4 separate regions of the Homo sapiens genome follow, and all the other regions are linked to region 4. Evidence: fine-mapped expression QTL. A gene starts in region 4. Each other region holds a variant in brackets. All regions are shown on one strand. Distances are from middle to middle. Region 1 overlaps DOCK3 (dedicator of cytokinesis 3). Region 2 holds the start of LINC02019 (long intergenic non-protein coding RNA 2019). Region 3 overlaps DCAF1 (DDB1 and CUL4 associated factor 1). Region 4 holds the start of HEMK1 (HemK methyltransferase 1, mitochondrial release factors N(5)-glutamine).

What was found. PIP is the estimated chance that this variant, and not a neighbour inherited with it, causes the effect. A credible set is the group of variants that fine-mapping cannot tell apart.
Region 1: its variant is the best candidate, but not a certain one, in a credible set for the expression of HEMK1 in nasal epithelium (TOPMed, PIP 0.58).
Region 2: its variant is the best candidate, but not a certain one, in a credible set for the expression of HEMK1 in whole blood (INTERVAL, PIP 0.72).
Region 3: its variant is the best candidate, but not a certain one, in a credible set for the expression of HEMK1 in whole blood (TOPMed, PIP 0.51).

Annotation. Positions count from the first base shown.
Region 1 is chr3:51,106,282-51,113,907 of GRCh38, reverse strand. The region is part of intron 9 of DOCK3 (dedicator of cytokinesis 3); the gene reads right to left. Among named protein-coding and RNA genes, the nearest start is that of MANF, 280 kb to the left of the region's middle. The variant G/T (reference allele first, on the strand shown) is at 3,532.
Region 2 is chr3:50,661,969-50,669,594 of GRCh38, reverse strand. LINC02019 (long intergenic non-protein coding RNA 2019) reads right to left here and starts at 156. Exons shown (of 2, transcript NR_183733.1): 1 at 1-156. The variant C/T (reference allele first, on the strand shown) is at 2,894.
Region 3 is chr3:51,490,894-51,498,519 of GRCh38, reverse strand. It overlaps DCAF1 (DDB1 and CUL4 associated factor 1), which reads left to right. Exons shown (of 25, transcript NM_001387579.1): 2 at 1,740-1,786. Among named protein-coding and RNA genes, the nearest start is that of DCAF1, 5.3 kb to the left of the region's middle. The variant C/T (reference allele first, on the strand shown) is at 3,426.
Region 4 is chr3:50,565,065-50,572,690 of GRCh38, reverse strand. HEMK1 (HemK methyltransferase 1, mitochondrial release factors N(5)-glutamine) reads right to left here and starts at 3,169. Exons shown (of 11, transcript NM_016173.5): 1 at 3,117-3,169; 2 at 1,359-1,760; 3 at 890-981; 4 at 483-576. The coding sequence starts at 1,586. C3orf18 (chromosome 3 open reading frame 18) reads left to right here and starts at 4,944. Exons shown (of 6, transcript NM_016210.5): 1 at 4,944-5,228; 2 at 6,597-6,685; 3 at 6,830-7,225. The coding sequence starts at 6,992. RefSeq lists an enhancer at 3,245-3,364 and a silencer at 4,803-5,312.

The DNA.
Region 1 (7,626 bases), 540 kb before region 4:
ACTCCTGGTTTCAAGTGATCCTCCCTCCTTAGCCTCCCAAAGTGCTGAGATTACAGGCCGTGACAATCAATTTCTAACAAACTCTCAAATTTTGTTGACGCTATTTGTCTTTGAATCAAACTTCAAATAGCAAGGTTTGAAAGAACTATAATGACAAAAGATTTGTTGAACTACTGGGCACTGCAGAATACAGGAAAATTCTGAGTATCAGTGTTGGGGTATGAGGGATTAACAGGTATATTAGATCACTGATGGAGACATCTATGTGAGTCCAGTGATTTATCTGGGGTCTTGCAGTGTCTCAGTGTCTTATGACTGGAAGTCTGTCTGATTTATAGTCCAAGGGAAGCTGTCAGCAGCTCTGGAGTCAGGGTGGATTAGTGTTTCTGGTACGTGGATTAATGTTCGAGAAGCTTCAGAGTTTTAGTGATGGTACAGCTTCTAGCAATAGTATGTGGGGGCCAATACCAGTAGATTACTGGGGTCTTCTAGAGGTCAATGGCTGAGGAAGCCCAGAGTTTGGCAACTGAAGGGGAATTGTTGTGGGGTCAGTCACTGGGGTCCTGAAATGTTCAATGTTTTAATAACCTGCAGAGTCAGTGTCACCTCTTTAGAGAGGTCATGCCTAACTGCCCTACTTTAAAAAGTGCCATGCCCTATTTCTGTGATTCTCATTGCTTCATTTTCTTTGAAGAATTTACCTCATGCCAGTTATATATATATATATTTATCCTCTATCTCCCCCTCTAGAACATAAACTACAAGAATACAGGGATTTTCTCTGTCTTGTTTTATGCTGAATCCCCAGCAGCTGGAACAATATCTTATATATGGTGGGCATACAATGTGTTTTGAATAAATAAACAAGAAGAATATTATAGATATAATCTCAAATCCACTCAAATTTATAAGAAGTAAATGTTTTTCAAATCAGCACTGTATTAGTAACAAATTACTTATAATACCCTCTTAATACCTTTTAGATGTAGCAGCTCTACCCAAAATCCAACAGAGTCCTTGAGCTCAGCTGTCACAGGCACTAGTTCTTCACCTTTCCTACACATTGAAATCATCTGAGAAATCCTGTTTTAATTAATCTGTAGAGTGGCCAGGATATTAAAAACTTTAATTGTATGTGCATTTAAGATTAAGAACTCCTGGTTTAAAACCTGTCCACTCCTTTTGCATACCCTCCTGTGGCTAATGGCTTCTACATACACTCAACAGTCGCCCCTCCCACTTCACATACCTCTAAAAACAAGTCTCTTGAATGTGTCCTTTTATCTTTATTGTCACTTCCACTATCCAGGTTGCAAACTATGCCATCTTTCTTTTTCTCTCTTAATGTACCAAAGTACAGTTTACATATGGCAATAGGCACAAATCTAAGTATACAACTTGATGAATTTTTGCTTAGGGAATCACCATGGCATATCATGATGCAGAATTAATTCCACCATCTAAAAGGTTCTGTTGTGATCTTTCTAGTGAATACTACCAACCATGACTATAGTTCAGGTTTGCCTATTCTTGAACTTTACATAAACAAAATCATTCAATATGTATCCTTTTGAGTCTGGCTTTTTTACTTATAATTTTTTCTCTATTCTTTTTTCCAAAAAATTTATTAGTGCTACAATGAACATATGCATGCATGTGTCTTTATAACAGAATGATTTATATTCCTCTGGGTATGTACCCAGTAATGGGATTGCTTAGTCAAATGGTAGTTCTGTTTTTAGGTCTTTGAGGAACTGCCACACTACTTTCCACAATGGTTGAACTAATTTACACTCCCACCAACAGTGTATAAGTGTTCCCTTTTCTCCACAACCTCACCACCATCTGTTATTATTATTATTTTTTACTTTTAAATAGTAGCCATTCTGACTGGTGTGAGATGGTATCTCATTGTGGTTTTGATTTGCATTTCTCTAATGATCAGTGATGCTGAATTTTTCATATGCTTCTTGGCCACGTGTATGTCTTTTTTTGAAAAGTGACTGTACATGTCCTTTGCCTACTTTATATTGAAGTTGTTTTTTTCTTGTAAATGTGTTAAGTTTCTTATAGATGGATATTAGACCTTTGTCGGGTGCACAGGTTGCAAAAATTTTATCTTATTCTGTAGGTTGTCTGTTTACTCTGTTGATAGTTTCTTTTCCCATGCAGAAGCTCTTTAAATAGATCCCATTTGTCAATTTTTGCTTTTGTTGCAATTGCTTTTGGTGTTTTCATCATGAAATCTTTGCCTGTTCCCATGTACACAATGGTATTGCCTAGGTTGTCTTCCAGGGTTTTTATATTTAAGTCTTTAATCCATCTTGAGTTGATTTTTACATATGGTATAAGGAAGGGGTTCAGTTTCAATCTTCTGCATATGGTTAAGCAGGTATCCCAGCACCATTTCTTGAATAAGGAATCATTTCCCCATTGCTTATTTTTGTCAGCTTTGTCAAAGAGCAGATAGTTGTAGGTGTATAGCCTTATTTCTGGTCTCTCTATTCTGTTCCACTGGTCTATGTGTCTGTTTTTGTACCAATACTATGCTGTTTTGGTTACTGCAGCCTTGTAGTATATTTTAAAGTTAGTGTATTTAAAACAACAAAGTAGAGTAGCATGATGTCTCCTGCTTTGTCCATTTTGCTTAGGATTGCCTTGGCTATTCTAACAATACTGATTCTTCCTATCCATGAGCATGGAATGTTTTTCCATTTGTTTGTGTCATCTCTGATTTCTCTGAACAGTGTTTTGTAATTCTCATTGTAGAGATCTCTCACCTCCTTGATTAGCTGTATTCCTACATACTTTATTTTTGTGTGTGGCAATTGTGAATGGGACTACCTTCCTGATTTGGCTCTCAGCTTAGCTGTTGTTGGGTATAGGAATACTAGTGATTTTTGTACACTGATTTTGTATTCTGAAACTTTGCTGAAGTTGTTTATCAGCTTAAGGAGCTTTTGGGCCGAGATTATGGGGTTTTCTAGAATAGAACCATGTCATCTGAAAACAGAGATAGACTGACTTCTTCTCTTCCTACGTAGAGGCCTTTTAATTCTTTGTTCTCCCTAATTGCTCTGGTCAGGTTTCCAACAATCTGTTCAATATGAATGGTGAGAGAGGACATCCTTGTGCCAGTTTTCAAGTGGAATGCTTCCAACTTTTGTCTATTCAGTATGAGGTTGGCTGTGGGTTTGTCATAGATGGCTCTTATTATTTTGAGGTATGTTCCTCCAATATCTAGTTCATTGAGAGTTTTTAACATGAAGAAATGTTGAATTTTTTTGAAAGCCTTTTCCGCATCTATTGAGATAATCATGGGGTTTTTATCTTTAGTTCTATTTATGTGTTTAATCACATTTATTCATCTGAGTATGTTGAAATCAACCTTGCATACCAGAGATAAAGCCTACTTGATCACAGTGGATAAGCTTTTTGGTGTGCTGTTGGATTTGGTTTGCTAGTATTTTGTTGAGGATTTTTGCATCAATGTTCATCAAGGATAATGGCCTGAAGTGTCTGTTGTTGTTG[G/T]TGGTGGTGGTGGTGTGTCTCTGCCAGGTTTTGGTATCAGAATGATGCTGACCTCATAGAATGAGTTGGGGAGGAGTCTCTTCTCATTTTTTGGGAATAGTTTCAGAGGAATGGCACCAGCTTTTCTTTGTATATCTGTAGAATTTGGCTGTGAATCCGTCTGGTCTAGAGCTTATTTATTTATTTATTTATTTGGCTGGTAGGCTATTTATTACTGATTCAGTTTTGGAGTTTGTCATTTGTCTGTTCAGGGATTCAATTTCTTCCTAGTTCAGTCTTGGGAGGGTGTATGTACCCAGGAATTTATCCATTTGTTCTGAATTTTTTAGTTTGCATGCACAGAGGTGTTCAAAATACTCTCTGGTTGTTACCTGTATTTCTATGCGGTGAGTGGTAATATTCCCTTTGTCATTTCAGATTGTGTTTATTTGAATTTTTTTTTTTTGAGACAGAGTTCACTCTGTTACCCAGGCTTGAGTGCAGTGGTATGATCTTGGCTTACTGTAACCTCTACCTCTCAGATCCAAGCAATCCTTCCACTTTGGCCTCACGAGTAGCTGGGACTACAGGTGTGTGCCACCATGACTGGCTAATTTTAGTATTTTTTGTAGAGATGGGGTTTTGCCATGTTGCCTAAGCTGGTCTCAAATTCCCAGGTTCCAGTGGTCCACCTGGACCTCTGGACTTGGCCTCCCAAAGTACTGGGATTACAGACATGAGCCATTTCATCTGGCTGGGTCTTCTCTCTTTTCTTATTAGTCTAGCTAATGGACTATTTTATTATTTTTTTCAAAAAATCATCTTGATTCATTGATCTTTTGAATTTTTTTGTGTCTCAATCTTCTTCACTTCAGATCTGATTTTGGTATTGGTTATCTTCTGCTAGCTTTGAGGTTGGTTTGCTCTTGCTTTTCTAGTTCTTTTAGTTGTGATGTTAGGTTGTTAGAGATCTTTCTAGCTTTTTGATATGAGTGTTTAGTGCAATAAAGTTCCCTCTTAACACTGTCTTAGCTGTGTTCCAGAGATCCTCATATGTTGTATCTTTGTTCTCATTAGTTTCAAAGAACTTGATTTCCACCTTAATTTCATTATTTACCTAAAAGTCATTCAGGAGCAAGTTGTCCAATTTCCCTGTAATTGTGTGATTTTGAGAGATTTTCCTATTCTTGAATTCTATTTTTATTGCTCTGTGGTTTGAGAAAGTGGTTGATGTGACTTTGCTTGCTTTGTATTTGCTGATGATTGTTTTATGTCTAACGGTGTAGTTAATTTTAGGGTATGTGCCATGTGCAGATAAGAATGTATATTCTGTTGTTTTGGGGTGGAGTTTTGTAGATGTCTATCACATCCATTTGGTCCAGTGTTGAGTTCAGGTCCTGCATATCTTCACTAATTTTCTGCCTTGATGATCTAACACTGTAAGTGGGGTGTTGAAGTCTCCCACTATTGTTGTGTGGGAGTCTAAGTTTCTTTGAAGGTCTCTAAGAATTTGCTTTATGAATTTGAGTGCTCCTGTGTTGAGCGCATATATATTTAGGATAGTTAGGTCTTCTTGTTGAATTGAACCCTTTACCATTATATAATGCTCTTTTGTCTTTTTGATCTTTGTTGGTGTGAAATCTGTTTTGTCTGAAATCAGGATTGCAATCCCTGCTTTTTTCTGTTTTCCATTTGCTTGGTAGATTTTTCTCCATCCCTTTATTTTTAGCCTATGGGTATCAATGAATGTGAGATGGGTCTCTTGAAGACAGCATACCACTGGGTCTTGCTTCTTTATCCACCTTGTTACTCTGTGCCTTTTAATTGGGGCATTTTGCCCATTTACATCCAAGGTTAGTAGTGAATGTGTAAATTTTATCCTGTGTTCGTGTTTATTTGTTTAAGCTATTTGCTAACTTGTGTGGCTGCTTTATAGTGTCACTGGTCTGTGTACCTAAGTGTGTGTATGTGGTGGTTGGCAATGGTCTTTCCTTTCCATATTTAGTGCTTCGTTTAGAAGCTCTTGTAAGGCAGGTCTGGTGGTAACTAATTTCCTCAGCATTTGCTTGCCTGACAAGGATCTTCTTTCCCCTTTGCTTATGAAGCTTAGTTTGGCTGGATATGAAATTCTTTGCTGAGATTTCCTTTTTTTAAGAATGATGATACCAGCATGGCAAAACCCTGTCTCTACTAGAAACATAAAATTAGCCAGGCATGTGCCTGTAATCCCAGCTACTTGGGAGGCTGAGGAGAACTGCTTGAACCCAGGAGGTGGAGGTTGCAGTGAGCCAAGATCATGACACTGCACTCCAGCCTGGACAACACAGCAAGACTCTGTCTCAAAAAAAAAAAAAAAGAATGTTGAATATTGGCCCTCAATCTCTTCTGGCTTGTAGGGTTTCTGTTGAGAGGTCCACTATTTGTTTGATGGGCTTCCCTTTGTAGGTGAGCTGTCCTTTCTCTCTAGCTGCCTGTAATATTTTTTCTTTCATTTCAACCTTGAAGAATATGATGACTTACATGTACTGGGGATGATCCTCTTGTGAAGTATTTTCTGGGAGTTTTCTGCATTTCCTGAATTTGAATGTTGGCCCTCTAGCTAGGTTGGGAAGTTCTCATGGATGATATAATGAAATACGTTTTCCAAGTTCTTTCCATTTTCCCGATCTCTTTCAGGGATGCCAGTGAGTTGCAGATTCAATCTCTTGATAATCCTATATTTATCGGAAGTTTTGTTTGTTCCTTTTCATTCTTTTTTTCTTTATTCTTGTCTGTCTTATTTCAGAAAGCCAGTCTTCAAGCTCTGAGATTCTCTCCTCAGCTTGGTCTATTCTGCTGTTAATACTTCTTCTAGAGTGTTTTTCAGCTCTATCAGATTGGTTATGTTCTTTTCTATACTGGCTATTTCGTCTGTCAGCTCCTGTATTGTTTTACTGTGATTCTTAGCTTCCTTAGATTGTGTTTCAACGTTCTTCTGAATCTCAATGATCTTCATTCCTATTCATATTCTGAATTCTATTTCTGTCATTTCAGCCATCTCAGCCCAGTTAAGAACCCTTGTTGGAGAACTGTTGCAATTGTTTGGAGGAAAGAAGATACTCTGGCTTTCTGAGTTGTCAGAGTTCTTGCACTGGTTCTTTCTCATCTTTGTGGGCTAATATTCCTTCAATATTTGAACCTGCTATCCTTTGGATGGTTTTTTTTTCCCTTTTATACTACTTAATGACCTTGGGGGTTTGATTGTGATATAAGATGGGTTCAGTCAACTAGCTTCATTACTGGAAGATTTTAGGAGACCAAGGCTCAGCTCAGGACTTCTATAATGTCTGGTTTCACTCTGGAAACTGATATCAAGCTTGGCTTTGAAATCTGGCTTGAGATTAGGAATCTGCTGCACTGGAGGGGTCAAGGTGCTCTGGGACTGCTGGTCACAACACTCTGCTGGGTGGTGCCAACCAAAGTACTTCATATGGTGGTGGCAGCGGGATCTTGTTTTCATGTGCCAATGGCAGCGGCAATGCAGTGGGGAGCACACTTGTCTGCTGGGGCAGGGTGCTAGTGGGTACTGAGGTGCCAGCTTCCATTCAAGCATTTGAAGTATGGCTGGGGGGGGCACCCCCTCCTATTAGTGACTATGCTCACATTTGCACAATGGTGGTGTTAGCACGGGGGCAGGGTACTGGTGGGAGCAGGACTGTGTGTATCCACTGTATGCGTTGATGCCGGCAGCAGTGGCTGCTCAGGGCTAGGGGCAAGTCCACTATTTTCCATGCCTAGTTTTATGCCAGCACCCCTGGTGCAGGGGCAAGGCACTGGTGAGGAAAGGAGCCCACCAACATTCTGAAAACAATGGCGGTGTGGCAGGGGGAAGCAAGGGCAAGGACACTCATGTAGGCAGGTGTGGCATGGCAGGGTGCACGCACACACACACATGCCTGCAAAGTGATATAGAGAGCGGCCATGGTGACGTGTGTGCAGGCAAAGTGGCATGGGGAGGCTGCAGTGGAGGAAGGGTGTGGGTGGGCTGCAGCCTGTCAGTGGGGGCTGCTATGCTGGAGCTCTCTGCCGACCAAGCGTGGCCTGCCAGTGCAGGAGCTATGATGTGGGTACCCACAA
Region 2 (7,626 bases), 97 kb before region 4:
TACCCCATCTCTGAAATGCTATGGGACTGGGGCTAGGAAAAGAACCGAGACTTTATCCCCACCAGCTTTTCATACTTTTTATCTTGAAGTGTAAAAAGTTTGAATCATTTATTTACCAAAAATTTATTGAGCACCTATTATGGGCCAGGTCCAGAGCAAAAAAAAAAAAAAAAAAAAAAAACAGCGAGCCACTGCACCCAGCCTCTCTTCATGGAGTTTAGCATCTAGTTGGGAGAAGAGACACTGAACCAATAATCACACAAGCAAATATCTAATGAGAGACACAAGGACAGGTGCAGTGGCTCACGCCTGTAAATCCCAGCACTTTGGGAGGCTGAGGCGGGCAGATCATTTGAGGCCAAGAGGTCGAGACCAGCCTGGCCAACATGGCGAAACCCTGTCTCTACTAAAAATACAAAAATTAGCCAGGTGTGGTGGTGGGTGCCTGTAGTCCCAGCTACTCGGTAGACTGAAGCAGTAGAATCACTTGAACCCGGGAGACAGAGGCAGAGGTTGCAGTGAGCAAAGACTGCACCACCACTGCACTCCAGCGTGAGTGACAGAGCAAAACACCATCAAAAAAAAAAAAAAAAAAAAAAAAAAACGAAGAGAGATACAAGTACTAGGAAAGAAGAGAAAGAGAAAGGGTACATGTACAGAGGGAGCCTCAGCCAGGGATTCTGACCTAGTTTGCAAATAGGGAAGACTTCCTGGAGGAAATGATATTTAAACTGGAGGCTGACAATACATACAAATTAGCCAAGTAAAGAAGAGAAAAGTGTTCTAGACAGAGCAAGCAGCATTTGGGAAAGGTGAATCTGGTGAAGAAGGAGCTTAACGTATCCAAGGAATGGAAAGGCCAGTGTGACCAGGACATGATGTGTGAGCGAGCAAGTGGGGAGTGGGGAGAAATGTGCGGACTAGAGTGGAAGATAGGGGCAGCCGCTGGGGCCTTGCCACGTCCCATGACATTAGGGAACCAGCCATTGACAGACCTTGGGTCAGAAGCAGAGATAAGAGACATGAATAAGAACATGATCTCCCCTCAAGGAGATCCTGGGCTTGTTGAGGGAACAGCCTAGGAAAAGGCCTATCCTCTTGAGTCCTGGGCTCAGAGGCACCACTGCACATTCCCCAATTCTCTGAGCACCAACAAAGTCTGTGCAGAAGCATCTAGGACCACTGCTCACACAGGACCACTCCAGGCTTCTTTCTCCTCCTTGAGCCAATCTTTCCTTTGTTCTCAAGATGGCACATCTGTGCCAGGCTCCAGCGCTCATCTCCCGGGTTTGGAGGGGAAGCACAGCTTACCTCCCTACACAGCCCACTCTCCAGGTTCTGTGACCCACTGCTTTAGCTGTGGTCTCAACACCTTGCTTGTCCCTCACACCCCTGCCCATGCTAAGGGTCCAGGGAAAGAATGTTGCCAGGGGCACCAACAAGCAATTGGCCCTGAATCTGATCAAGGATTACTGCTAATCTCTTCCTTGAGGAACATTTAATACAGGATGCCAAAAAAGAGAAATCTTTAGAGAATTCTCTCACAAGATCACACCTTAGGACTTGTACTCGGAACATGCAGGGCCCTGACCCAGGGAGCAGCAGGAATAGTACTCACTCTGTCACCACTGAAGAAGAGCAACTCTAAGAAATGGGGACTATTCTGTTCTCCAATTAGCATTGAGGGTGATGGATCAGAATTTATAATATGCAGTTATGAGTTATGGAACAATCAGAGAAGTGATCCTGATTCAGAAACCTGCCATTCCAGGAGCCATGGCAATTTTTCATGAGAACTCATCATGGGGTGGCCCCTGCCAAAACCTCACTTGCACCCAGCCTGTCCCAGCCCCAGTCTGTCACTCCAGCCCACTGACAGCCTCAGGCTTTTTCAAGTTTCAGGTGACCTAGCAACAGGGAATAGAACTTGAGAGCTCTGGAGTCAGAGCTGGGTTCACATCCAGCTCCAGATAGATACTTCCTAGCTGGGTGACCCCAGGCAAGTAGCTTAATCCCTCTGAACCGAGTTTCTTCCTGTCAGGTGGGAATCAGAATGGCTTCTACATCAGGGATGCTTCTGAGGATAATGCCTGCAAAGTTCTCAACACAGAGCCCGGCACAAGGTAAATGCTCACTAAACTTTGGAACCTTGCTCCCCTCCTACCAGCTCAAATTGCTTCCCAGAAATGCTGGGTCTCCTTGCATTTGTGGAATCTGCTTCTCCTCCAAGCTAGCCTGCGAGAGCTGGTTTGGTCACCCCTGCGCAGCTGGGCTGGCCTCCTGCGTCTGCCTCTTACCAGCCAGCACTTAACTCAGCATGAGCCTCTTCTCTCTATTTAACACCAAAAGAAATTGATTTCCCTAAGCTATTTCCATGATGCAGCACCCCTGAGAACTACATATTGCATCAGTTCTCCTCCATGACCATCAAACCCCCTGCTCACAGCCACTCTCCCTAGAGCCACAGGGTCCTCAGCTGCCAAGGCATAGATCTGTTTCATTTTGCACTTGCTTAAAGGTCAAACATGAATTTCTCCCCATTATTGTACTGTGTCTTGTCACACAGACTGTCTGTTTCATGGATTAGTCATAGTCTTGCTATCAAATTAGATATTCCTCAGTAGTTATTTTTAGATAAATCTTTTTCTAATTCTACACGGTGCAATGATGTGTGTGCACCCACAGCTCTGGAATCCAGGCATTACCAGGTGGGTTCCAAATTGTATGAGAGTTCACATTCCTCCAGAAAGCAACAGCCAGTGGAGCAGTGGAGTTTGTAACCTAGCTCTGTCCATGGACTCTTCTGTCCAGCCCAAAATAATTAATCCCCATGTCTTGGATAATCCAATCACTTATCATCAGTCCAGTAAAAGCCCAAAGGAGGCTTGTGACA[C/T]AATTGTGAGTTAAGCAAAACATGTCTATGCCATCCCAACCTCTTGTTTGACTCTCTCCTTGATCTTAGTACAGAGGCACCAAAGGCAATTGTGCCTTCATGCCCTGCACCCCCATGGAAGACTGCCCTCGGGAAAGGCCCTGCCACCCTCCTGACTGAGACCTGAGTGAATATTACTGGTTATATCCCTGCTTGCTCCCATGGTTCTGCCTGCACACTCAGACCAGCGTCCATAGGGAAATGAGGTCCTCAGAACAGAATTTTAGACTTAACTGGGGTGAGTGTGCATGGAGAAGGAAGGGCTTGCTAAGAGGGAGTCCTCTTCACCTACTCCAAGGCACTTTGAAGATAAGAAGCTGCACATACCTTGGGCTTTAAGGACCTCATATAGTTGGTCCAGCATAGTTGAAGCAACAAAACCCATAGTAACTCTATTTTTTTTTTTTTTTTTTTGAGACGGAGTTTAGCTCTGTCACCCAGGCTGGAGCGCAGTGGCACGATCTCAGCTTACTGTAAGTCCCGCCTCCCAGGTTCACACCATTCTCCTGTCTCAGCCTCCCAAGTGGCTGGGACTACAGGCGCCCGCCACCATGCCCAGCTGTTTTTTGTATTTTTTAGTGGAGACGGGGTTTCAGCGTGTTAGCCAGGATGGTCTTGATCTCCTGACCTCATGATCCACCCGCCTCGGCCTCCTAAAGTGCTGGGATTAGAGGCATGAGCCACCGTGCCCGGCCAACCCATAGTAACTCTGTTAATTCAAGACAGTATTTAGCATTTGCTCCTGGGGTATGAACTGTGAGGAGGGGGGCAGATTTCCCATTCCGATGCTTTCTTCTATGTGTCGGTCTCCACTGGCCGGGATGTGTGGGGCCTCACTTACCCAAAACAAGTGAGACTAGGGGAAGGGGGAAAGTCAGCCCAGCACAGACCCATGTGACTTCACACTAAGCCACTTCCTCCTTTAAGCCTTCTTCAATAAAGAAGATAATGCTTTGGCCTCCATCTGAGTTTTTATCTCTCCATTGTTCAGAACTTGGATGAGGGAAAGAGGACTACTTATTGGTGACCCTGTCAGAGAGCCCCTATAGACTATAAATGCTTCAGCTGTTCAGAGGCAGGGGAGGCTGAGTGGATTGGAAAAATCTGGGAAGGCTCGGCTGAGGAGGCAAGGTCTCAGAGGATGAGTTTAAGTGGATATGACTCTCGGGGGTGGTATCATGAACCAAAGCACAGAGGCAGGAAGAGCAAGATGAGTGGGATGCAATGACGAGGCCAGTGTGACCAGAGCCCAAGACTTCCTTGGGGGTGGGGGCAGGGTGGCAGGTGGGTGGAGGCAGACTATGAAGAATTCTGAGTAGTCAGTAGAGACTAAACTAGTCAGTGGGTCAAAGTATATTTTCTGAAGGCTCTTCAGGGTCCAGGGGAAGTGGCTGGGGATAGTCAATGTTGGCTTAGAGGAGTCTGTGGGGCAGGCCAGGAGGCTGCTATGAGGCATTTAGAAGGAAGAGTGCAACCATGAAGACCGGCTGAAGGCGTGGAGACAATGTAGGAGGACACAGAGATTTGACCTTGCATCATTCTAGCTGGTGAGAACAGCCCTAGCAGGGCTGATGAGCCATTCAGAGAGCCCACGGGGAAAGGTACAAATTTGGGTCACCTGATGGAAACTGCTTCCTCCCGTGAGGAGAAATAGAATAGTAAATGAAAAGATAGGAAAATGAACATCTTCTTTAACTACCAAAGAAAGACAAATTGAAGCCACAAGAAGACCCCTTCTCTTTTCTTTTCTTTTCTTTTCTTTTTTTTTAAGATGGAGTCTCGCTCTGTCACCAGGCTGGAGTGTAGTGGCACAATCTCAGCTCATTGCAACCTCTGCCTCCCGGGTTCACGCAATTTTCCTGCCACAGCCTCCCAAGTAGCTGGGATTACAGGGACACACCACCAAACCTGGCTAATTTTTTGTATTTTTAGTAGAGACAGGCCTTCACTATGTTGGCCAGACTGGTCCCAAACCTGACCTCATGATCCACCTGCCTCTGCCTCCCAAAGTGCTGGGATTACAGGCTTGAGCCACCACGCCAGGCCAAGAAGACCCCTTCTTTGGCCTATCATATAAAAAATTTTTCTTTTTTTTTTTTTTAGACAGAGTCTCACTCTGTCACCCTGTCACCCAGGCTGGAGTGCAGTGGCGCAATCTCAGCTCACTGCAAGCTCCGCCTCCTGGGTTCATGCCATTCTCCTGCCTCAGCCTCCCAAGAAGCTGGGACTACAGGCGCCTGCCACCATGCCCGGCTAATTTTTTGTATTTTTTTTTAGTAGAGATAGAGTTTCACCGTGTTGGTGCTCACTGCAAGCTCCGCCTCCTGGGTTCATGCCATTCTCCTGCCTCAGCCTCCCAAGTAGCTCTACAGGCGCCTGCCACCACACCCGGCTAATTTTTTGTATTTTTTTTTTTTTAGTAGAGACGAAGTTTCATCATGTTAGCCAGGTTGGTCTCGATCTCCTGAACTCGTGATCCACCTGCCTCTGCCTCCCAAAGTGCTAGGATTACAGGCGTGAGCCACCACACCTGGCCTTTTTTTTTTTTTTTTTTTTTTTGAGATGGAGTCTCACTCTGTCGCCCAGGATGGATGCAGTGGTGCGATGTCAGCTCACTGCAGTGTCTGCCTCCCAGGTTCAGGCAATTCTCTGCCTCAGCCTCCTGAGCACCTGGGATTACAGGCACGTGCCACCACACCTGGCTAATTTTTCTATTTACTTAGTAGAGACAGGGCTTCACCATGTTGGCCAGGCTGGTCTCGAACTCCTCACCTCAAGTGATTCACCCGCCTCGGCCTCCCAAAGTGCTGGGATTATAGGCGTGAGCCACCGTGCCTGGCCCAAATAAAAAAATTTTAATGGGCCGGGCACGATGGCTCAAGCCCGTAATCACAGCACTTTGGGAGACCAAGGTGGGCAGATCACGAGGTCAGGAGATCAAGACCATCCTTGCTAACACGGTGAAACCCAGTCTCTACTAAAAATACAAAAAGTTAGTCGGGCGTGGTGGCGGGCGCCTGTAGTCCCAGCTACTCAGAAGGCTGAAGCAGGAGAATGGCATGAATCCAGGAGGCGGAGCTTGCAGTGAGCCAAGATTGCGCCACTGCATTCCAGCCTGGGCGACAGAGCGAGACTCTATCTCAAAAAAAAAAAAAAAAATTAATGACTGTGTGCAAGCAGTTAGTGTAATAGTAGGCTACTTATTTGAAGTAGGGTGGGTCCAGGTGACCCTCCCACCAGCACTGTGGCAAGTGGGTATCAAGAACTTCCCCCAAAAAATGTTAGTTCTGTGAAAATGGATTGAGATAAGTTTCATTTCTATAGATATCCAATGTAACATTGTCTATAAATATTGGAAATAATCCAAATGACTACCAGTAGGGGATGAAGTTATTGAACATGGGACATTACCCCATGCAATTGTATGCAACCAATAACAACCATGAAATCAATCTATCAACAAAAAGAATGTCTAGTGTGTCACATTCAGCAAAAAACAATCAGGCCCAAAACTCTGTTCACAGTGTGGTTATAATTATGCAAGAACAATCACGTGCAGATACAAACCAGAGTAAAATATACCAAGAAGAGACCCTTTCCTCCTTTCTGCAATTTCCCAATGATTATGTGTTGCTTCTCTGACACATTTACCTGTGTACAGCCGTATCACTTTCTCAGAGAATAATACACAGAGACGGGACATGGAGCTGGGCAGCACTGGCAACCCTGTACTCTGGAGCCCACCCTCTTTGGAGCTCATCCTTCCTGCTAATGAGCAGGGAGTAGTTTTCAAAGCTAGGCTCTTGTGATAGAGAGCTGTGACAGGACTGAACATGGATTCTTGTACCTGATTCATCCTTCCTAGCCTAGCTCATCTACTCATCCACTCTGGCCAACCCAGGCCCTGACTTCCAGAACATAGGACCCATTTTTATCTTTCTCTATGGCCCCTGAGGGCTCTGGTCAGCCAGAGGAGAAGCCCAGAGCTCAAGGCTCCTCGTGGGGTGCCTGGAAAAAGGCTGCCACTCCCCTTCACTGCACTCACTGTCTCTACCTCCATATCTACAGCTCCCATTTCTCCCCATTTGGGCTTCCAGCCCTGTTGTTCCACTGAAACGTCCATGCCAAGGCCACCAAGGATGTCTGTGGTGGCAAATCTGATTATTGCTTCTCTGTCTTCATCCTACTTTTCCTGTGCAACAGCATTCAACACAGTGACCATCCCTTTTTTTTTTTTCTGAGACAGAGTCTCACTCTGTCTCCCAGGCTGGAGTGCAGTGGCACGATCTCAGCTCACTGCAACCTCTGCCTCCCGGGTTCAAGCGATTCTCCTGCCTCGGGACTCCTGATTAGCTGGGACTACAGGCATGTGCCACCACACCTGGCTAATTTTTTGTATTTTTCGTAGAGACGGGGTTTCACCGTGTTAGCCAGGACGGTCTCAATCTCCTGACCTCGTGATCCGCCCACCTCAGCCTCCCAAAGTGCTGGGATTACAGGCCTGAGCCACCCGCCCAGCCGTGACCATCCCTTTCTTATGATACTTGCTTTTAGAAGCTTCCAATAAACTATACCTCTTGTTTTTTCTCTTAGCCGGCTGCTCCCTCTCAGTCTACTTTTCTGGATCCTTCATGTCTCCCCAACCTCTGCCACAGGATTGAGTCCCCTTTTCATCTCTCTGCACATTCTCTCCT
Region 3 (7,626 bases), 930 kb before region 4:
GTGATCCTCCCTGGTCAGCCTCCCGAAGTGTTGGAATTACAGACATGAGCCACTACACCTGGCCTGTTTTTTTAGATACAGGATCTTGCCCTGTAGCCTAGGCTGGAGTGCAGTGGTGTGATAACTCTTTTTTTTTTTTTTTTCTTTTTTCTTTTTTTTTGAGACAGCGTCTCATTCTGTTGCCCCAGCTAGAGTGCAGTGGCGCGATCTTGTCTCACTGCAACCTCCGCCTCCCAGGTTCAAGTGATTCTCCTGCCTCAGCCTCCGGAGTAGCTGGGACTACAGGCACGCGCCACCACGCCCGGATAATTTTTGTATTTATAGTAGAGATGGGGTTTCAGCATATTGGCCAGGCTGGTCTCAAGCTCTTGTCCTCGTGATCTGCCCACCTCGGCCTCCCAAAGTGCTGGGATTACAGATGTAAGCCACTGCGCTGGCTTTTTTTTTTTTTTTTTTTTTTTTTTTTTTTTGAGACAGAGTCTCACTGTGTTGCCCAGGCTGGAGTGCAGTGGCGCGATCTCAGCTCACTGCAAGCTCCGCCTCCCAGGTTCACGCCATTCTCGTGCCTCAGCCTCCCAAGTAGCTAGGATTACTGGTGCCTGCCACCACGCCCGGCTAATTTTTTGTATTTTTAGTAGACACAGGGTTTCACCGTGTTAGCCATGATGGTCTCGAGTGTCATCATAACTCATTGCAGCCTCCAACAACTCCTGGGCTCAAAGGAGCCTGCTGCCTCAGCCTCTTGAGTAACTAGGACCGCAGTCACAGGCTAACATGATTGGCTAATTTTTAAATATTTGTGTCGACTGTGTCTCAAAATGTTGCCCAGCTGACCTCAAGCAATCCTTCCGACTTGGCTTCCCAAATTGCTGGGATTACAGGCTTGAGCCACTGTGCCTGTCAATTTAAAAAAAATTTTTTTTTCTTTTTTTTGAGACGGAGTCTTGCTCTGTTGCCCAGGCTGGAGTGCAGTGGTGCAATCTCGGCTCACTGCAACCTCCACCTCCCGGGTTCAAGCGATTCTCCTGCCTCAGCCTCCCGAGTAACTGGGACTACAGGCGCGTGCCACCATGCCCAGCTAATTTTTGTATTTTTAGTAGACACGGGGTTTCACCATGTTGGTCCGGCTGGTCATGAACTCCTGACCTCGTGATCCACCGCCTAGGCCTCCCAAAGTGCTGGGATTACAGGCGTGAGCCACCGTGCCCGCCTATTTTTATTTTTTTTGAGACAGTCTTCCTGTGTCACCTAGCCTGGAGTGCAGTGGTGCGATCTTTGCCCACTGTAACCTCTGCCTCCCAGGTTCAAGCGATTCTCATGCCTCAGCCTCTGGAGTAGCTGGGATTACAGGTGTGTGCCCCCACGCCTGGCTAATTTTTTTATTTTTTGTAGAGATGGGGATTTGCCGCGTTGGCCAGGCTGGTCTTGAACTTTTGGCCTCAAGTAATCCACCCACTTCAGTCTCCCAAAGTGCTAGGATTACAGGCATGAGCCATAGTGCCTGGCAAACAGTTGTTAATATTATGCCATATTTTCTCTATTTGTGTGTGTGGTATCTATATATATATTTTGTGGAATCATTTGAAAATAAGTTGCAGGCCTGTCATCCCTAAATACCCTAGCAGATGCTTGTTAGGATAAGAAAATTTTACATAAGTATTTCTTGAGGCTTTATATTATCCCATCATGGGGACAATATTGTCATTTAACCCCGCACAACAACTGTTTCCATCTTGCAGATAAGGAAATTGAGATTTGGAGAAGTTAAATAACCAAGACTTCACAGGTATGTCAGCAGAGTTGGGATTTGAATCCTTGAAACCTTTTTTCTACCTAGTACTAGCTGGTCTTGGGGACCTCTCTGAGCTAGTTTCCTCATGTGTGAAAAAGGGTAGGATGGTTGTGAAAATTCAGAATAATGTAAGTATGGTAAATTACTTAGCTCAATGTCTGTCCCATACTAGATATTCACTAATTGGTAACTACCGTGTCACCATTGGACAGACCATCATTTCTTCATAGCACTTAAAGGAACTCACTTAAGAACTTGAGTAATGCACCCTTATTGTCTTGGGCATAACAAGGTGAAGATGACTGTTTTCTTTGCTCTTGTTGTGCAAGCTGGAGTGCAGTGGCGCGATCTCGGCTCACTGCAACCTCTGTCTCCTGGGTTCAAGCGATTCTGCTGCCTCAGCCTCCGGAGCAGCTGGGATTACAGGCGTGTGCCACCATGCCTGGCTAATTTTGTTGGTATTTTTAGTAGAGATGCGGTTTCACCATGTTGGCCAGGTGGTCTCGAACTCCTGACCTTGTGATCTGCCGGCCTCGGCCTCCCAAGGTGCTGGGATTACAGGCGTGAGCCACTGCGCCCGGCCTAATTTTGTATTTTTAGTAGAGACAGGGTTTCTCCATATTAGTCAGGCTGGTCTCGAACTCCCAACCTCAGGTGATCTGCCTGCCTTGGCCTCCTAAAGTGCTGAGATTACAGGTGTGAGCCACTGTGCCCGGCCTTTTTTTTTTTTCCTTGAGACAAGGTCTCGCACTTTTGCTCTGGCTGGAGTACAGTGGTGCAGTTATGGCTCACTGCAGCCTCCACCTCCTAGGCTCAAGCAGTTCTCTTGCTTCAGCCTCCCCAGGTAGCTGGGACTACAGGTTGCAGTGAGCCAAGATTGTGTCCCTGCACTCCCGCCTGGGCAGCAGAGCGAGATTCCGTCTCACAAAACAAAAAACAAACACAAAAAAACGAACATTGAAGTAAGTACTACTACTACTGATTTTTAAATTTTTTTCATAGAGGCAGGATTTCACCATGTTGTCCAGGCTGGTCTCAAACTCCTGGGCTCAAGCGATCTGCCCACCTAGGTTTTCCAAAGTGCTGGGATTACAGGTGTGAGCCACCACACTCAGTTGCTGACTGCTTTCATTGATACTATGTTAATTCACATTGCTATTATTAGTTAAGTCTGTTACAAGTTTATATTTTCCTTTATTTAGTCTGTTACAAGTTTATATTTTCCTTTATTTATGTATTTAAATAATAAAGACAAGGTCTTACTGTTACCCAGGCTGGTCTCAAACCCCTGGGCTCAAGTGATCCTCCTACCTCAGCCTTCCAAAGTGCTGGGATTACAAGTGTGAGCCACCACGCCTTGCCTTTATATTTTTTTATTCTTTATTATTCTTAATATTTTTTTTGAGATGGAGTTTTGCTCTTGTCGCCCAGGCTGGAGTGCAGTGGTGCAATCTCGGCTCACTGCAACTTCTGCCTCCCGGGTTCAAGCGATTCTCCTGCCTCAGCCTCCCGAGTGGCTGGGATTGCAGGCGCCTGCTGCCACGTCCGGCTAATTTTTTGTATTTTTAGTAGAGACAGGGTTTCATCATGTTGGCCAGGCTGGTCTCGAGCTCCTGACCTCAGATGATACACC[C/T]GCATTGGCCTCCCAAAGTGCAGGGATTACAGGCGTGAGCCACCACGCCTGGCCTATTTTTTATTTTTTTAAATAATAGAGACAAGGTCTCACTAAGGTTTATATTTTCCTTGGGCAAATGGTTATTCCCAAAGTTATAATTATCTTCAGGCATAGATTAGTTGGAAGTTCTGAAAATGATACCAGAAGTATATATGTATATGTTTCTAAGTTGAACTCTAAAATTTTAGTGTTTTAGGCCAGGCATGGTGGCTCATGTCTACAATCCTAGCACTTTGGAAGGCCAAGTGGAGAGGATTGCTTGAGCCCAGCAATTTGAGACCAGCCTGGGTAACATAGTGAGACCCTGTCTCTACAAAATAATAAAAATTAAAAAATTTTAAAAATATAAAATTTTAGTGTTTTAATGCCCTTGAATTAATCTTTATTAGAGGTAGTGTTTTTTAAAAAATCATGTCTTTATGTGCTCTAGTAGGCTAACTGCTTAAGTTATCTAAGAAGCAGTCTCTTCTGGATCATTTCTTTTCTCATTAAAAAATTGTGGTAAATTTACGTAGCATAAAATTAACGACTACCCATTTTGAAGTGTACAAATCAGTGGCGTTTGTAGATTCACAGTGTTGTGCAACCATTATCTCTTTCTAGTTCTAGAATATTTTTATCACCTTAAAAGGAAACCTCGGCCGGGCGCGGTGGCTCACACCTGTAATCCCAGCACTTTGGGAGGCTGAGGCGGGTGGATCACGAGGTCAGGAGATTGAGACCATCCTGGGTAACACGGTGAAACCCCGTCTGTACTACAAATACAAAAAAGTAGCCGGGTGTGGTGGCCGGTGCCTGTAGTCCCAGCTACTCGGGAGGCTGAAGCAGGAGAATGGCATGAACCCGGGAGGCGGAGCTTGCAGTGAGCCGAGATCCTGCCACTGCACTCCAGTCTCTGGGCGACAGAGTGAGACTCCATCTCAAAAAAAAAAAAAAAAGGAAACCTCATACCCATTTAGCAGTCACTGCCCATTTTCCCCTTTCCTCAAGTCCTTGGCAACTACTAGTTAGCTTTCTGTATATTGATTTACCTATTTCAACTTTTTTTTTTTTTTTGAGACGGAATCTCGCTCTGTCGCCCAGGCTGGAGTGCAGTGGCGCAATCTTGGCTCACTGCAACCTCCGCCTCCCAGGTTCAAGCGATGCTTCTGCCTCAGCCTCCTGAGTAGCTAGGACTACAGGCGCATGCCACCACGCCCGGCTAATTTTTGTACTTTCAGTAGAGACGGGGGTTTCACCATGTTGGCCAGGCTGGTCTCGAACTGTTGACCTCATGATCCACCCGCCTTGGCCTCCCAAAGTGCTGGGGTTACAGGTGTGAGCCACCATGCCCAGCCTTCAATGTTTTATATAAATAGAATCATACAATATGTGCCCTTTTGTGTCTGCTTTCTTATTGTTTTCAAGGTTTTTCCACATCTGTAGCATGTTACTACTTCATTCATTTCTATGACTGAATATTCCATTGTATGCATATACCACATTTTGTTTATCTCTTCATCTGATGATGGACTTTTGGGTTGTTTCTACTTTTTGGCTATTGTGAATAATGCTACCAAGAACATTTGTGTATAAGTCTTTGTTTGAATTCCTTTTTTTTTTCCCCTGAGATGGAGTTTTGCGCTCATTGCCCAGGCTGGAGTGCAATGGCGTAATCTTGGCTCACTTCAACCTCTGCCTTCTGAGTTCAAGCGGTTCTCCTGCCTCAGCCTCCCCAGTAGCTAGGATTACAGGCATGTGCCACCATGCCTGGTTAATTTTGTATTTTTAGTAGAGATGGGGTTTCTCCATGTTGGTCAGGCTGGTCTTAAACTCCCGACCTCAGGAGATCTGCCCGCCTTGGCCTCCCAAAGTGCTGGGATTAGAGGTGTGAGCCACCACACCCAGCCTTGTTTTCAGTTCTTTTGGGTATATATCTAGTAGTGAAATTGCTGGGTCGTATAGTAATTCTACATGTGACTTAAAAAAAAAAACCTGCAACTTTTTGAGAGAGTCCCAAACTGTTTTTTATAACTACTATACCCTTTTACATTTCTTTTATTTATTTATTTATTTTTTTGAGAGGGAGTCTTGCTCTGTCACCCAGGATGGAGTGCAGTGGCGCGATCTCGGCTCACTGCAAGCTCCACCTCCCGGGTTCACGCCATTCTCCTGCCTCAGTCTCCCGAGTAGGTGGGACTACTGGTGCCTGCCACCACGCCCAGCTAATTTTTTGTATTTTTAGTAGAGATGGGGTTTCACCATGTTAGCCAGGATGGTCTCTGTCTCCTGACCTCGCGATCCGCCTGCCTCGGCCTCCCAAAGTGCTGAGATTGCAAGCATGAGCCACCGCGCCCGGGGCCACCCTTTTACATTTCTACAAGCAATATGTGTTCCAGTTTCTTCACATGCTTGCTAATGCTTATATTTTCTCATTTCTTAAACTACAGTCATGTTAGTAGGTGAGAAATGATATCTCATTATGGTTTTGATTTGCAGTTCCTAGTGACTGATGTTGAGTATCTTTCATGCGTTTCTTGGCCTTTTTTTTGTTTTTAAGACAAAGTCTCACTCCTTTTGCCCAGGCCGGTGTGCATTGGGGTAATCTCGGCTGACTGCAACCTCCGTCCCCTCCGAGTTCAAGTGATTCTCCTGCCTCAACCTCCCGAGTAGCTGGGATTACAGGTACCTGCCACCATGCCCAGCTCTTTTTTGTATTTTTAGTAGAGATGGGGTTTCAACTTGTTGGCCATACTCGTCTCAAACTCCTGACCTCAGATGATCTGCCTAAAGTATTGGGATTATAGGCATGAGCCACAGCACTCGGCCCATTTTCGCATATACTGTGAGGCAAAGATCCAACTTCGCTGTTTTGTGGGATAATATCCAATTGTCTCACTACTTTTTTTTTTTTTTTGAGACGGGTCTTGCTCTGTCACCAGGCTAGAGTGCAGTGGTGCAGTCTCGGCTCACTGCAACTTCCGCCTCCCGCAGGTTCAAGCGATTCCCCTCCCTCAGCCCCCCCGAGTAGCTGGGACTACCAGTGTGTGCCACCACACCTGGCCAATTTCTTGTATTTTAGTAGAGATGGGGTTTCACCATGTTGGCTAGGATGGTCTTGATCTCCTGACCTCGTGATCTGCCCACCTCGGCCTCCCACAGTGCTGGGATAACAGGCGTGAGCCACTGTGCCAAGTCTCATCAGTACTTTTTTGTTTGTTTGTTTTTTGAGATGGAGTCTTGCTCTGTCGCCCAGGCTGGAGGGCAGTGGCGCTGTCTCAGCTCACTGCAACCTCCGCCTCCTGGATTCAAGCAGTTCTCCTGCCTCAGCCCCCCTGAGTAGCTGGGGTTACAGGCGCGCCACCATGCCTGGCTAATTTTTGTATTTTAGTAGAGATGGGGTTTCACAATGTTGGCCAGTCTGGTCTCGAACTCCTGCTCAAGTTATCTGCCTGTCTTGGCCTCCCAAAGTGCAGGGATTACAGGCATGAGCCACTGCACCTGGGCAGCACTACTTATTGAAATTACTTTTTTCCTATTGAATGGTCTTGGTACCCTTGTTGAAAATTGATCATAGATGTGAGTGCTTATTGCTGGATTATCAATTCTATTGTATTTGTCTCTGTGTTGATCCTTATGTCAGTGCCATGCTGTTCCATTTACTATAGTTTTGTAGCAAGTTTTGAAATCAGAAGTGTGATTTTTCCAACTTTTTTTTTTTTTTTTGGAGACATAGTCTCGCTCTGTTGCCTTGCTGGAGTGCAGTGGCGCAATCTTGGCTCACTGCAGCCTCCGTCTCCTAGGTTCAAGCGGTTCTCCTGCCTCAGCTGTCCCAGTAGCTGGGATTACAGGTGCGTGCCAACACGCCCAGCTAATTTTTGTATTTTTACTGGGGATGGGGTTTCACCATATTGGCCAGAATGGTCTCGATCTCTTGACCTTGTGATCCACCTGCCTCGACCTCCCAAAGTGCTGGGATTACAGGTGTGAGCCACTGCGCCTGACCCCGACTTTGTTTTTTTTTTTTTTTTTTCCAAGATTGTTGTGCCTATTCAGGTTTCCTTGCAATTACATACGAATTTTAGAATCAGCATGTCCATTTCTGCAAAAGATGTCATTGGGTTGTTTTTGTTGTTGTTGTTTTTTGAGACAGAGTCTCTCTCTGTTGCTCCCAGGCTGG
Region 4 (7,626 bases):
TGGAGGGCTAACCCTCTCATCATCTGGGCCCAGAGATGGCAGGAGGGCAGTGACCTGCCCAAGGTTGCACAGCTGATACCAGGTCTCCAGGTGTCCGGCTGGAGCCCTCTCCACTTCCTCCATGCCTCCTGAGAAGCTGCTGGAAGACATTTGTTCCCTGTGGGTTGGGTGAGCCATGGGATGGCTCCCAGAGAAATGGCAGAACAGGCTAAGTACTTGGGCAGCACTATTTGAGGCACTCTGGGCCATTGCCAGACCTAGAGGCTGGGTTGATAGCTTGGAACATAACAGTCAAGGGGACCAACAGGAATCCTCTGTCCTCTGGGCTCTGCCAACACAGTCAGAGAGGAAATACATGTCTAGAAAGGCACTGTCCCTGAAGTCATGGGGCCCCAGTGCCCCCTGGAGGAAGCCTGGGGTAAGACTGGTGCCCTGAACTCCACCATCATCCTGATCCTGCCTTGCCCTGGTGGCACACCTACCTCTGTTTCTGGCCGAGGAATAAACACTGGGGGCACCATCCTTAGGCTGAGCCCCTGGAAGTCCCACTCTCCAAGGATGTACTGCACCGGCATCCTGCAGAGGGGGCAGCTGGGTGGTCATCAGGGACAGAGCTAGGACCAACAGGACCATGCCTGGGTTGAGATACCACTTGTGGCCAAAGGTATCAGGCAAGACCATGTCTCCAGGGCCTTGGGACTCCTGAGGCAAAACCCTCCCTCCCTCCCTTCTTCCTATTCAGTACCCCGGCCCCACTCTTGCCACTCCTGCACCCCAACACCTCCCTAGTCCTTGGACATTCTCCTCCTCCCTGAACTTGGTGGGGATAGGGGAGGCTGGACTGCTGCTCCCTGAACACATCCTTCAGGTCTGATCCATGGGTGCTCACCTCTGCAATCGACGGCTACTCAGCTCCCGGATACACTGTAGTTGCTGAGAGGTCAAGGGCTGGGTCCAAAGTGCCGGCCTCAGGCTCTGAAACTGTCCCCACAGAGAATATAAGTGGCTGGCTCACTGGGCCCAAGGCCCCCAACCCAGGTGTCTTATGTGGATAATGCCTGCCCAGCACTGGTCTGGAGGCCCAACCCTCTCATCATCTGGGCCCAGAGGGGGCAGCATCCTGCCTAAGGTTACACAGCTAACACCAGGCTTCCAGGTGTCTATCCCAGAACACTTAGGCAGAGATATATTCATTCATCCAACAAACTGTTACAGTGTGTGCCAGGCGCTAAGACGTTCCTTCAGAAAAATCCCATCAGTCTCAGCTAAGCACTCTTAGTGAACAGAAAACCTGGATATCCCTTCCCCAAGTCCTCCCTCCTCCCTCTTCCTGTCCTCTTGACAACACTAAACTTAACTGTTTTGGCTCCAAGGACATGAGCCACGATGTACTCACTGGATTCCCGGGCCTCAGGGATACCCCTCTTCTCAAAGACCCCAGTCCAGTGGCTGACCAGTTCTATGGCACTGGATAACCCAGCCAGAGGTGGTTGGGGTTGCCATGAGCTGAAGGCCCAGCCCCGGGTACTTCCCCTCCTCCCTGGGCCAGACAGGAGGGCCCACAGCATTCGGCCCCAAAGCTCCATGTCTCAGGGAAAGGTTCTCCAGAGTGCTTCCAGGTTCCCAAGTCTGCTTTATGATGTCAGCTGCTGAGGTGAGTGCTGAGAGTGGCCCCTGGACCCAGCTGGGTGGAGATGGAGAGGTCACAAGCTCTGGTGCCCCAAAATGGCTCTGGTCCTCAGATATAGTTGGTTGCCACCCTGGGAGTGAGAGGAACCAGGAAAGCAGGTGAGCCTTGTATGACACCCCCCCTTCTACCAATACATTGCCTGAGAATAGTTGTGCTCTTGCTCTGACACCCCCTTGACTCCATTTAGAGCCTTACCCACCTATTTGATCATTCTTGTCTTGGCCACTTACGTTTTCTTCACATTTTTAGCTGGAGTGGGCTGAGCCCATAGCTCAGTCTCTGCTAATAAACGGGTTGGTGGTAGGTTAGGGCACATATGTGGGGACAGGACAGATCTGTGTCTAACCTAGCGTGTGTGATCTTGAGCAAGTCATTATTTCTGATTTTCACTTTCTTAATCCATAAGATGGGGGAAAATCACACCAAACCCATGGCAAGCAATGCATTAGTCTATGAATATCCAAGGCCTGGGAGGCAGCTCAACACACAGCAGGGACCAGATGTTACATGATCTTAACTGATGTTACAAGAGGCAGATGATTGCCTTTAATTGGGAGCTTTGAATCTGACATTGTGTGTGTACTGTCATGGATGTACATGCTGAAAATTTCCTCCTAATTTAACCTATAATCCGGGACATCAGCGTAAACCACCAACTAAAAAATTTACAATTGTATATTTAAAGAGGTCACAAGCAAGTTTAACTGAAGGTTTAAAATCAGCGGTCCCCTTTGCTTCCAGATAAAAGTCCAAACTAGCGTTTATTAAGCACCTGCTAAGTGCCACATCTTCAGATACAAGTAGGGTCAGAGAAGGGAAGCGACTTGCCCAGCGTCACTCAGGTAGAAACTGTCCCAGGCAAGCTGGGCACGGTGGCTCACGCCTGTAATCCCAGCACTCTGGGAGGCCGAGGTGGGCGGATCACGAGGTCAGGAGTTCGAGACCAGCCTGGCCAGCATGGTGAAACCCTGTCTCTACTAAAAATACAAAAAATTGGCCGGGCATACTGACGCGCACCTGTAGTCCCAGCTACTTGGGAGGCTGAGGCAGGAGAACTGCTTGAACCCAGTTCAAGCAGGCGGAAGTTGCAGCGAGCCGCGGTCATGCCACTGCACTCCAGCCTGGGTGCCAGAGAGAGACTCCGTCTCAAAAAAAAGAAAAAAAAGACTGTCCCAGGCAAGACACGAACCCGAGTCCACCAGACTCCAGAAGCGGCTCTTGCACCAGTGCGCCGTCCCAGGAGCCAAGGCCCGAAGTCAGAAGTGTAAACTCCCTCACAGCTACGCACCGCATTGTTAACGACCCAGATGAGGCCCCCTCTCTCCAACCCTGTTTCCCCATCTGCACTATGGAGAATGGTACCGGCCAGGTCTCCAGGCGGTTGCAGTCGAAACACCCCGTTCCGATCCCCACCTCCCATGCATACCTGCCTGAAAGGCTGCCCCACCCACCCACCAGCCGGAGAAGCTGCCCCGAACTGGACGCCCGGACGTGCGTGGCCCGTCGCGCGCTCCCTCGGACGCCCCGCTTCCGGGGTCGGCGCCTTTAAGAAAAGGCTCGGGCGGACGCCGTAGCCCAGCTTCAGTGTTCCTATCGCTGGTGGGTTCCTCCCAGGAGACCCCTGCGGATGGGTGGGGAGGCTGTGAATTCCACTCCCTCTACGCTCGCAGGCCTGCATACAGGAAAGTGCGGGGATGTGTGTGGGGTTGACCCTTGGGGGCCCGGACCTGCCGGTCTTCCTTAAAATCACAGCAGGGATTTGGCTCCAGCCCAAGGGGATTGCTCCGAGCTGGCGTTTAGGAACCAGGCCGGGAGGTGTGTGGGCGGAGCCCAGTAGCCTGCCGGAAAGGGGGCGTGTCACCAGAGGGCCCGGGTGTTCCGGCGGGGACCAGATGTCCGGGGGCGTGGTCTATCTTAGCCTGGGGGCCGGGTGGAGCTGTGCATGGGCGGGTTCCAGTGTTGAAGGCTGGTCCAACTTTGGGGTCCAGTCCCAGTGTCGTGACCCTACCGAGGTCAGTGGCCCGAGCCCACCAGGGGGTCGGCCGACTGGCGGCCAGACCCCAGGGGCCGCTCTTTTACCGATTCGAATCTTGACTCTATTGGCAACTCCTCCAGGTGTTGGGACCTCTGGACCTCAGTTGCGCCTTCTATAAAATACTCGGCAGCGTCTCGCAAAGTGTGTCTTGTCAACATCTCCCCACCAGAAAGTACTGTTAACTAGAACACTGTTAACTACTTTTTTTTTCTTTTTTTCTTTTTTTTTTTTTTTTTTTTTGAGACGGAGTTTTGCTCTTGTTGCGCAGGCTGAAGTACAATGGCGCGATCTCTGCTCACTGCAACCTCGGCCTCCGGGTTCAAGCCATTCTCCTGCCTCAGCCTCCCAAGTAGCTGGGATTACAGGCGTGAGCCAACACGACCGGCTAATTCTGTATTTTTAATAGAGACAGGGTTTCACCATGTTGGTCAGGCTGGTCTCGAACTCCTGACTTCAGGTGATCCATCGCCTCGGCCTCTCAAAGTGCTGGGATTACAGGAGTGAGCCACCACGCCCGGCCTTAAACTGCTATTAAACATGCTGTTTCCCTGCCTCCTTCCCAGACCGGGAGACACAGGGGCGTTTGCATTTGTACCAGGCTACCCGGTGACTCCCATAAACTACTTTGAAAACCGGCGGATCAGGAGTATCTGAGGGCTCCTTCCCTGAGCTGATCATGCCGTGGATGGAAGCTATTGTGAGGGTATATGTAGACTTGCCTGGGTCGGGGTGCCCAATAATAAATCCACCCCACTCTCAACTTCTGTAGACGAAGATTCCCCATCTTCGTCTAGAACCCTCACACCAGAGGACCCGTCTGAGTAGAAAGCCAAGGTTCAGGAAGGGAAAAGCAGTTTCTTCAAGGTCACAAAGTCAGCCAGAGTTCAGTGCAGGCCCAAGGACTCCCAGTCCAGTGCTCTCCCCAAGTCTCCTCTGTACATCCATCCGCGTTTTGGGGGCTTGAGTCTGTCCTGGCACGGGTAGCTGGCAGGGGTCCCGAGTTCTGGCCCGGAAGGGCCTGGCCACCCACTGTCCTCCGCCCAACTTCGGCGCAGGCCACGGGGTGAGGGTAGTCTCTAAAAACTGCGACCAGGTTCTAGGCTCCCTCTGGGGGTGGAGCCAGACCCGAGCGACAAGCGAACGGTCCAATTCTGGGCGGGCTCTAGGCCCGACAGCCAATCGGAGGCCGGGGGCGCGGAGCGTGCAGGGAGGCAAGGCGCTGTAGCTTCGGGGATCCCCCGAGGCTGCTCGGCCCGGCCCCACCTCCGCCGTGGGTCCCGGCCCTACCCACCCTAGCTCAGGCCGGCAGAGCCAGCGCTCGCGGATGCGGCTGGTGCGCAGTAGCGGGCCTGGCCAGCGGCTCGGGGCTTGCAGGGAGGGCGGATCTCGGGTCGGACCCGCAGCCCCAGACGCCGGGCTTGGGGGTTCCCCCCGCCCCGGCCTCCTGCCAGTCACTACCACCCCTAGCCTCTCCAACTGAGCTCGGCGCCGGGAGAGGATTAAGTAAGTGCTGAGGTCACTGCTCCTGTGCAAGAAGGGAGGCATCACAGGGTCGCGGAGGCGGGCATGGGGATTGGGGCAGGGAGGACTGAGAGACCTGGTGGAGAACAGCATGCGGGTTCTCGAAGGTCGCGGTGCCGACCCCTTTTACCCCGGTTTCCTTCCCTTCCCCTTTGGACCCTGAGGCAGGCCTGGAAAGTGGTCAGTAGGGCCTCTTCTCTCCTTTGGGAGGCGATGTTAACAGAGCCCCAGGGCACGAGTTAAGGGTTTGGCCCAAGGTCACGCCCGGGATCAGTTGCAAAGCCAAGAAAAGAACCCGGGACTTCCTATGTGCCCAGATGTGCCCAGCCTAGCTGGAGGGAGAAGGCAAAGAGGGATGAGCCTTTCTACCCCATAACCCTCTGCCAGCCTTGCCCCTTCCTCAGGGACCATCAGAGGTGTTTACACATCTCACACACGCCCATGCATCTGCACAGGGAGGCAACCCCACTAATGCCCATGAACCAGCACAGGGGGATGTATGCACCCACGAGCTAGGTATCCCTCCTCTCCCTAGGCCGTCCCATCTGCAGCTTGGCTGGCACCTCTTCCCACCCCACCTTAACCAGGGCCCTCTGCACTGGGCAAATCTCTCACCCTCTGCTTCCAGGGGAGGAGGGTAAAGGAAGAGAAGGCACCCACACTGGGAGCTCCATTCCTGCCTCGCCTTTCTCCTTGACCCTAGCAGCCCCTCTATTGTTGGTGGGTGGGGAGGGCAGTCCAATGTCCCCGAGAGCCTGCGGAGAAGCCCCGCCAGAGAACCAGAGCCTCTCTCTCCTTCTTGTCTTCTGGTCTTTCCACATCAGCCTCCACCCACACTCCAAGCATAGTCTGGACCATACAGTGGACTGGGTCCAGGGGCTCCCTTGGCTCCCCTTTGTGACTGGGTTGGCCATGGGGAGAAAATCTAACATGTAGTGGATGCTTACTGTGGATGGGGGTTGTGCTGAGCTAAGTCTTTCTTCGACACCTGTTTGTTCTGCCATTTCTGTAACCCCATGACCCTGTGGGGATGTTCTCAATATCCCCACCTTAGACTCAGGAAAACGGAGACACAGAGAGGTGGAGTGACTTTCTAGGGATCACTAGTTAAGCAGCTGAGCTAGGTTTCAAAGACAGGCCTGTCTGACTCTTGGGCAAGTGTTTCCCTCCAGGAAAGGAAAAAGCTGTGGTATTTTTTCCCCCAAGCAGGATGAGGGATGTGGGAGGCAGGGAATGAGGAGGTGGATATGGGGAGGTGGGGGATATGGGGACGCAGGTTGAGGGGAGTTTTTGATCAGGGGAGGGAGACTTTTTCTTTCAAACATCCCCGCTGCCTTTCATATCTTCCAGGTTTGATCACTATGATCATCTCACCCACAGACAGAGGATGCAGGGCTTCATTTTTGTTCCCAAAAACAGGGGCACCGTAGATACGTAAAGTATGTGTCCTAATGTCTCCTGAACTTACCCTCATTCTTGCCCTCAAACCTTTACCTCCCCAGTGCTTTCAGAACCTAGAGAGACTTCATCTCACTACTGAGCCCCTGTCCTTAGCCTCATGTTTCTTATTCTTTCCTTTCTAGCACCCAGGAAGGCAGGGGGCTCCCTTTATCCAAGGAGGTGGCTGTGCAGGTGGCCACCACAGGTGGCAGGAACCACAGGCTGGGGCACTCCGGAGTCAGGAGTGAGTGGGCAGGTTGACTGGCATCAGGCAGCCTCTCAGCCAGGGCCCTCTCCGCATCAGCATGAACTCCAGGACCGCATCTGCTAGGGGCTGGTTCAGCAGCCGCCCACCCACCTCTGAGTCTGACCTGGAACCTGCCACAGATGGGCCAGCCTCCGAGACCACTACCCTCAGCCCAGAGGCCACCACCTTTAATGACACCAGAATCCCTGATGCAGCTGGTGGCACGGCCGGCGTGGGTACCATGCTTCTGTCCTTTGGGATCATCACGGTGATAGGCCTGGCTGTGGCCTTGGTGAGAGCTGGGGTAGGCTGGGGGAGGATAATCAGTGTTTAGATTTATAGAGAACCTAATCAATCAGAAGACAATCTGGTTGTTGTTATTGTTGTTTTTGAGACAGAGTCTTGCTCTGTCATGCAGGCTGGAGTGCAATGGCTTGATCTCAGCTCACTGCAACCTCCACCTCTGGGGCTTAATCGAGTCTCCTGCCTCAGCCTCCCAAGTAGCTGGGATTACAGGTGTGAGCTGCCACGCCCGGCTAATTTTTGTATTTTTAGTAGAGATGGGGTTTCGCTATGTTAGCCAGGCTGGTCTTGAACTCCTGGCCTCAAGTGATCTGCCCCCGTTGGCCTCCCAAAGTGCTGGGATTACAGACATGAGCCTCTGTGCCCGCCAACAATCTATTAATGAGAGTG